Homo sapiens: one gene and its partner. The protein of the gene in region 1 interacts with the protein of each later gene in a biochemical or structural test. Each region holds a gene or a part of one and is shown on either strand. Other genes may lie near its edges.

Region 1 (3,184 bases):
GAGACTCTGTCTCAAAATTAATTAATTAATTAATTAAAGGCAGCCTCTGCAAAGGAAATTGACCTGGCACATCAGACAGGCATAGGCCCAAATCCTGGCTCATTTCCTTACCTGCTGTGGGACTATGGGCAAGTCAGTTACCCTCTGTGAGCCCAGTTTTCTCATCAGGAAAAAGAGGGGTCATGAGAACCTCTACCACAGTGGTCATTAATTGATGTGACCCTGGTGGGTTCAACCGTGGCTCAGGCACCACAGTGCTTGCTGTGTGATCTTGGGCTAGTTGCTAAAGTCCTGTGTGCTTTAATTTGTTCACATGTAAAATAGAGATAATCTACCTCATAGAGGTGTTAAACGATGATTCAACAAGCTTGGAACAAAGCTCGGCACCATTTTAAGTGCTGAAAAAATGATAGCGATTCAGCCACTGAATCTTTTTGCAAGACTGACCATGTATCAGATGCTATTCTAAGCCCTGGAGGTGCAAGGAGGGAGCGAGCTTTCACTTAGGCAGTAGGAAATGAACTTATGAACAATTTCAGATCATGACAAATGCTCTAGAAAACAGAGTAAGGCCTAAGGCCAGGTGCAGTGGCTCACACCTGTAATCCCAGCACTTTGGGAGGCCAAAGTGGGAGGATCACTTGAGCCCAGGAGTTTGAGACCACCCTAGGCAACATACACCCCATCTCTATTTTAAAAATCAAAAAATTAGCTGGGTATGGTGGTGTAAACCTCTGGTCCCAGCTGCTCGGGAGGCTGAGGTGGGAGGATCACTTGAGCCTGGGAGGTAGAGGCTGGAATGATCTGTGAGCTGTGATCACACCACTGCACTCCAGGCTGAGCGACAGAATAAGACCCTGTCTCAAAAAAAAAAAAAAAAAAAAAAAAAGTAAGGCCTAGAGAGTGACAGAGGGGCCTACTGTAAATGAGTGGTTGGGGAAGAAGGTGGCAGTGGAAGCCTCTGATCAGAGACCCAGGGCCTGGCCCTGCAGAGAGAACAGGGGTGAATGGCCTGAGGCTGCACTGGCTGTGGCCAGTTCCAGGATGAGTTCAGTGGCCAGTGGGACTAGAGTCCCTGAACAGGGCCTGGTTCCCTGTTGGACACAGGGCCTGGCCCTTGGAAGGACTCAGGCCAACCGGGAATAGGGCTGCTAGGGACCTGTCTGTCGGGCCACCACCTGAGACCCTGGGGGCACAAGCGGGCTGGCTGTTTCCTTAACTGAGGCCTGTCAGTCCTTCCTGGAGACGGCCCAGCCAGCACTTCGGGCGCTCGACGGGCTGCAGCGCGAGGCCATGGAGGAGCTGGGCAAGGCGCTGGCCTTCTTTGGGGAGGATTCCAAGGCCACCACCTCTGAGGCTTTCTTCGGCATCTTTGCAGAGTTCATGAGCAAATTCGAGGTGAGCCTCGCTGGAGCCCTGAGGGGCCCTTTTGGAGAGGTGGGGGCCAGAGGCCAAATGAAGGGATCCTCCATGAAGCCAGGGCTGGGAAAGGGGCTCCAGTGAGCGACATGTCCCCCTAACCCCCTGATGGGCTGTCTAGTGTGGGAAGAGACAGGGAAGGCGTCACAGGTTCCTGGGACCACTGACCACCCTACCTCTGTGTTCCCCCTCCCCAGCGAGCGCTGAGTGACCTGCAGGCCGGGGAGGGCCTGCGCAGCTCCGGGATGGTTTCACCCCTGGCCTGGTGACAGTGGCCACACCGCGTCCTCTGCGGCCTGAGCAGGGAGATGGAGGCCGAGAGGGCAGCCCAGACACTGCCGAGGTCCGGGGCCACTGTGCCCCGGGCTCTGAGCACACCGCCAGCCTCTCCTGCAGCTACCTCAGCCGCCGAGCTGTGGTCGGGCCCTCCTCTGCCAGCCCTTGTTCCTACCCCCAGGCCCAGAGCCAGATGCTGTAGGAGCAGGTGCTGAGTGTGCCTGCACATGGAGGACCGTGCTCTGTCGGCTTCTTGGGCCCACTTCCCACTTCGCTCCCAGGCTGTCAGGGGGGCCTGGAGGGTGGATTACAAAGTGGCCACATTCCTGGGACATGTGGACCTTTTTTCTGATCCTGCTCCTAGTGGGTCCCTGTGAGGGGGCCGACACCCTTGAGCACGACCCTGCAGGCAGGCGCGAGACGCGAGAGGGCAGAAAGCCGGATGTAGAGGGGCCCTGGGGATGTGCACGCCCAGCCTGGGCCTTGGAAGCTGGCTTCAGGGACACAGGAAGAGAGAAGCCTGGGAGAGACGCAGGGAAGGAAGGACTGGAGAAGGAAGACCCCCTATGTCAGACTGCGGAATTGAGGTTTCATGCAGTGGACAAACCCAAACCTGTGTAGAGGTGGCCCAATTGGAAGTGGGGAGCCTGGGAGTGGAATAGGTGTGGTCAAGGTAGAGCAGACAGAATGGGGAGGTGTTGAGGCAGGAGGTGAGCAGGATCTGGTGGCCAACTGCCAGACTTCTCACCTGGACGGATGGTGATGTTCCCTGGAGCAAGTCATGAGACCGGGGCAGGTGTGGGGGCAGATGACACAATCTGGGATGTGTTTGGGACCCAAATGGTCATTTTACATGTGCCTAGGCATATAGCAGGAGTTACCTGGATACCAGGAGCAGGAGCAGGTGGCGTGGTGGGCAGGGAGGGAGGGTGTGTGAACTGTTTCACCTTTTTTAAAATTCTCTGATTGACAGATCCTTGGATCAGACAGCTTCCCTCGTTGCACTTTTTTTTTTTTTTTTTTTTGGAAAAGTCTGAAATGGGCTTTAATCCTGTCTCATGGATTCTTTTTCTCCCACTGCAATCAAATGGCTTACATTGCACCTGGGCAGTACTGGGAACCTGTTCAGTTCTTCCCAGTCTCCCCTAGGCCCCTCTTGGAAGCCACCTTTGTTTTTTTGTTCCTTGCACACAAGCACCATACAAAAACATCAAAACCAAAATATATACTGCAAGGGGGATGTGGCTAGTGGGGTACATTTCACCCTAGCAGCTCAAGCAGAATTGTTTCCAAAAGTTCCCAGTGCCTGTGTCTCTGGGAAACATGTCAGGAGGTCAGTTAAAACCTCTGCAGGCAGGGCGTGGGGGCTCACGCCTGTAATTCCAACACTTCGGGAGGCTGAGGCAGGTGGATCACCTGAGGCCAGAAGTTCAAGACCAGCCTGGCCAACATAGTGAAGCCATATCTCTACTAAAAATACACAAAATTA
Region 2 (3,500 bases), on another chromosome or scaffold:
TCATAGGTGGGATTTAAATAGATAATTGTCACCAAGTTATAAAATTTAGTCCCTGTTTCCATAAGAGAAGGGTTGCGCAGTGGCTGGTCCCTTTTATATATAAATCATCTCTTTAGCCCTCATCTTCCTCACCCCGGGTTCTTCCCCATTTCATAGATTGGGAAAGTGAGGTGAAATCACTTCCCTGGGATCCCATAGGAAGGCATTGTGTTTTCATAATATATTCACATGACTTCAAATTCAAAAAGCACACAATGGCATAGAATGGAAAGGGTTTGGGCCAGTCACTTCCCTCTGGCGTTGAGGTGCTCATGTACCCTGTGCCCTTCCGGAGAGATTCCAGCATGCTGTGCACACCTGCATGTTGACCCTTGTCTTGCCTTCTTCCTGCTTGTCAGATCCTTCCATATCCGGACATGCGTAGTGCCTCATCCTTGCAGCCAGCGGCCTTCATGCTCCACTGTAATTCGTGGGTTAGTGGGTATATGCACTTGTTGTTTTTGATGCTACCACATGGGGATATTTGCCTCGTCTGAACTCTGTGTATTCTCTGCTGCACCTTGTTGCTTCTTTGCAATAAACTTCCTGAACTCAAAGCTAATACTGGGGGGAATCCCAGAAGCTGCTGAGGGCAGGGCCATGCTGCTCAGTGTTCCACCCTAGCTCCTGACAGCATTTCCCTAGAAAACTGCTGCTGGGCCTCTAATGGAGCAAATAAATCTGTGTACAACTAGGCAGCAATAGTTTGTCCAAAAGTCCTGGTGTAATCTAGTCCCTCAAACTGTGCAGCCTTACATGGAGTACACACACACTTGCAGCCTTGAAGTACTACCCACTGAGGGGAGAAGGCACGGCAAGGGGAAAGGTTGGCACAGGATGGAGCAAGTGCTTTTTCTCACACATTCTGGAGGAAAAGTTATCCAGTTCTTCTGTTCTAGAAACACCCCTGTCCTTCAGAAACCAGGGTCTAGTTGCTCTGGCTACCAGGCGTGAGCAGGTGGTGGTAGCACCACAGGCCCCGGTTACCATCACTGTCCCATGTCTTTGATCTTCGTCCTTGTGGGGACTGGCCTGCATGGCCTCGGTGGCAGCGAGCCCTGCAGAGGCAAGTGCATCAGCATCACTGTGTTTGTTCCCAGGTTACGTCGGCGCTGCTACCGTGGGTGCTGCTGCATGGTGGTTCATTGCTGCTGACGGTGGTCCAAGAGTGTCCTTCTACCAGCTGGTACTCAGTCACCTTTCTTTCTGTACCTTACATGAGAAGTGTTGTGAGGCCTTGACCTTTCTGTGGTTTCGGTATCTATCAAATCATCTTAAGACTCAGACAATAAACAGTTACATCTAAGATGATTCTGAAGGACCAGGGCTTCTCCGAGAAATTGGGGTAAACCTCTTGGCTGGCTCTGCATTCAGGCTGGTCTGTGCTAGGCTTGGTATGGGGTTGGAGCCTGGACTTGGGAAATATACTGGGCTGATAGGAATTTGATTGGATTTTCTTGCAGAGTCATTTCCTACAGTGTAAAGAGGACAACCCGGACTTTGAAGGCGTGGATTGTGCAATCTTTGAATCCCCATACCCGATGACAATGGCGCTCTCTGTTCTAGTAACTATAGAAATGTGTAACGCCCTCAACAGGTTAGTGCACCTTCACGGCAGGCTGAGGCGAGCATGGTGACTGCCAGGGCACCGGGGAATTGTGTGTAGTCACGGTTGATTGAGGATCACAGGACAGTTCTTCCCTTCCCAAAAGAAAGGAGAACAGGCAATACCAGTTTTAAAAGCATGAGCTGTCGTCACCTCCAGGAAGTAGTGGGAGTGCTTAGCCCTGTGTTTCTTAGGAGCTCTTCCTTAAAAGAAACCGTGGGGGCCAAAAATAGGAACTTTGGTACCCCTGTATGCCAGCACCCACAGGGAAGGAACCTCACCCTTTCACACAGACAAATGGTACCATCCAGTTAAGCCCGTGACAAAAATGGAAATTTCTAAATAGCCCAAGTCTCCAGGGCAATTGGGAACAGCTTTGAACCCACTAAGATGGGGTCTGCTATGCCAAAACATAGATACAGAATTCACAGTTTGTCCTGCATTAGGACATTCTCTTCAACTTTGCCACTGTAGAAAGTGGAGGTAGGTCAGCGGATGGTGCCACATTAACAGCCGCCTTACTGAAGTGTAGTCCAACAGGGTCTTACTGCCACTGTGACACGTGCCTTGCCTTGGGGGTGCGTTTCCCCACCTCTCCTTGCTCTGCAGCTTGTCCGAAAACCAGTCCTTGCTGAGGATGCCCCCCTGGGAGAACATCTGGCTCGTGGGCTCCATCTGCCTGTCCATGTCACTCCACTTCCTGATCCTCTATGTCGAACCCTTGCCAGTAAGTGGTTGGGTGGGGCTTGGGACCAGCCACCTCCTTCCAGGGGAGGCTGGAGGCGTGACACGTCTTCCCTGTGTGTCAGCTCATCTTCCAGATCACACCGCTGAACGTGACCCAGTGGCTGATGGTGCTGAAAATCTCCTTGCCCGTGATTCTCATGGATGAGACGCTCAAGTTTGTGGCCCGCAACTACCTGGAACCTGGTAAAGAGTGTGTGCAGCCTGCCACCAAATCCTGCTCGTTCTCGGCATGCACCGATGGGATTTCCTGGCCGTTTGTGCTGCTCATAATGCCCCTGGTGATCTGGGTCTATAGCACAGACACTAACTTTAGCGATATGTTCTGGTCTTGACTGACAGTTTTCCATAAAGAAGATGTTTAACTTAATCAATTAATTTTTTTATTGTTTAAAGCAACTGTCTATTTCTGCTGAATTTTCACATGAACATACTGGCTGGTGATGGAGGTTTCATACTCTAGATTTTGTTTTGCTTTTTCTGACTCCAGTGGGGCAAGATTTTCCTTTTTTATACACATAATTAAAGTGTCCATTGACATGTACAGAGAACTAACACTATTTTATGCAAATATTTTTTTGTAGATGAAAAAGCATGTACAGTGTTCTGTTTAATACTCATCCTTGTATAAAAAAAATAGTTGAGCCAGCAGACATTGTCAGCAAATTAATTGGCAGCAGATTTTAGGAAATGAATGTGTGTGGTTTTTTTTCTAAAACTAAATAGCATGTATTGTGTCTTTTGCATGATGATCCGGATTTAATTTGATATCACAGTCTAATTTTTATTCATAAGCCAATTTTTCTGCACTGAGCAGAGTCTTGCTACCTCAGTCAGTATTGTTTTGGTTTGCTACTTCCCTCACCCACTTTGGCCTCCGTTCACCCCACCCCACCCCACCTCTCCCCACCTTACCCCCGCCCCGCTTGGCTTCTTCTTTAGGATTGTGATGGTTCGTTCTGTTTACATCAGTTTTAACGAGAGGTATGCCTGTACTCGCTTGTGCAGAAAACATTGTTCCAGATTCAATCGACTGGGTTTATGTCCCTTCACATAGTTTTTAAGGTTATTTATTTAAATGTCTAATGTATTTTATTGTAACAGACATTGT

The links.
Region 2: the proteins of GRID2IP (region 1) and ATP2A2 interact in a test that uses a peptide from one of them, tested with the Homo sapiens proteins (one large-scale study listed by IntAct).

What each region holds. Positions count from the first base shown.
Region 1 is NC_000007.14:6,496,278-6,499,461, reverse strand, and holds the end of GRID2IP (delphilin), read left to right. Parts: intron 1-1,233; coding exon 1,234-1,398; intron 1,399-1,616; coding exon 1,617-1,688; 3' UTR 1,689-2,684; downstream 2,685-3,184.
Region 2 is NC_000012.12:110,343,747-110,347,246, forward strand, and holds part of ATP2A2 (sarcoplasmic/endoplasmic reticulum calcium ATPase 2), read left to right. Parts: intron 1-1,139; coding exon 1,140-1,225; intron 1,226-1,502; coding exon 1,503-1,636; intron 1,637-2,254; coding exon 2,255-2,372; intron 2,373-2,454; coding exon 2,455-2,724; 3' UTR 2,725-3,500.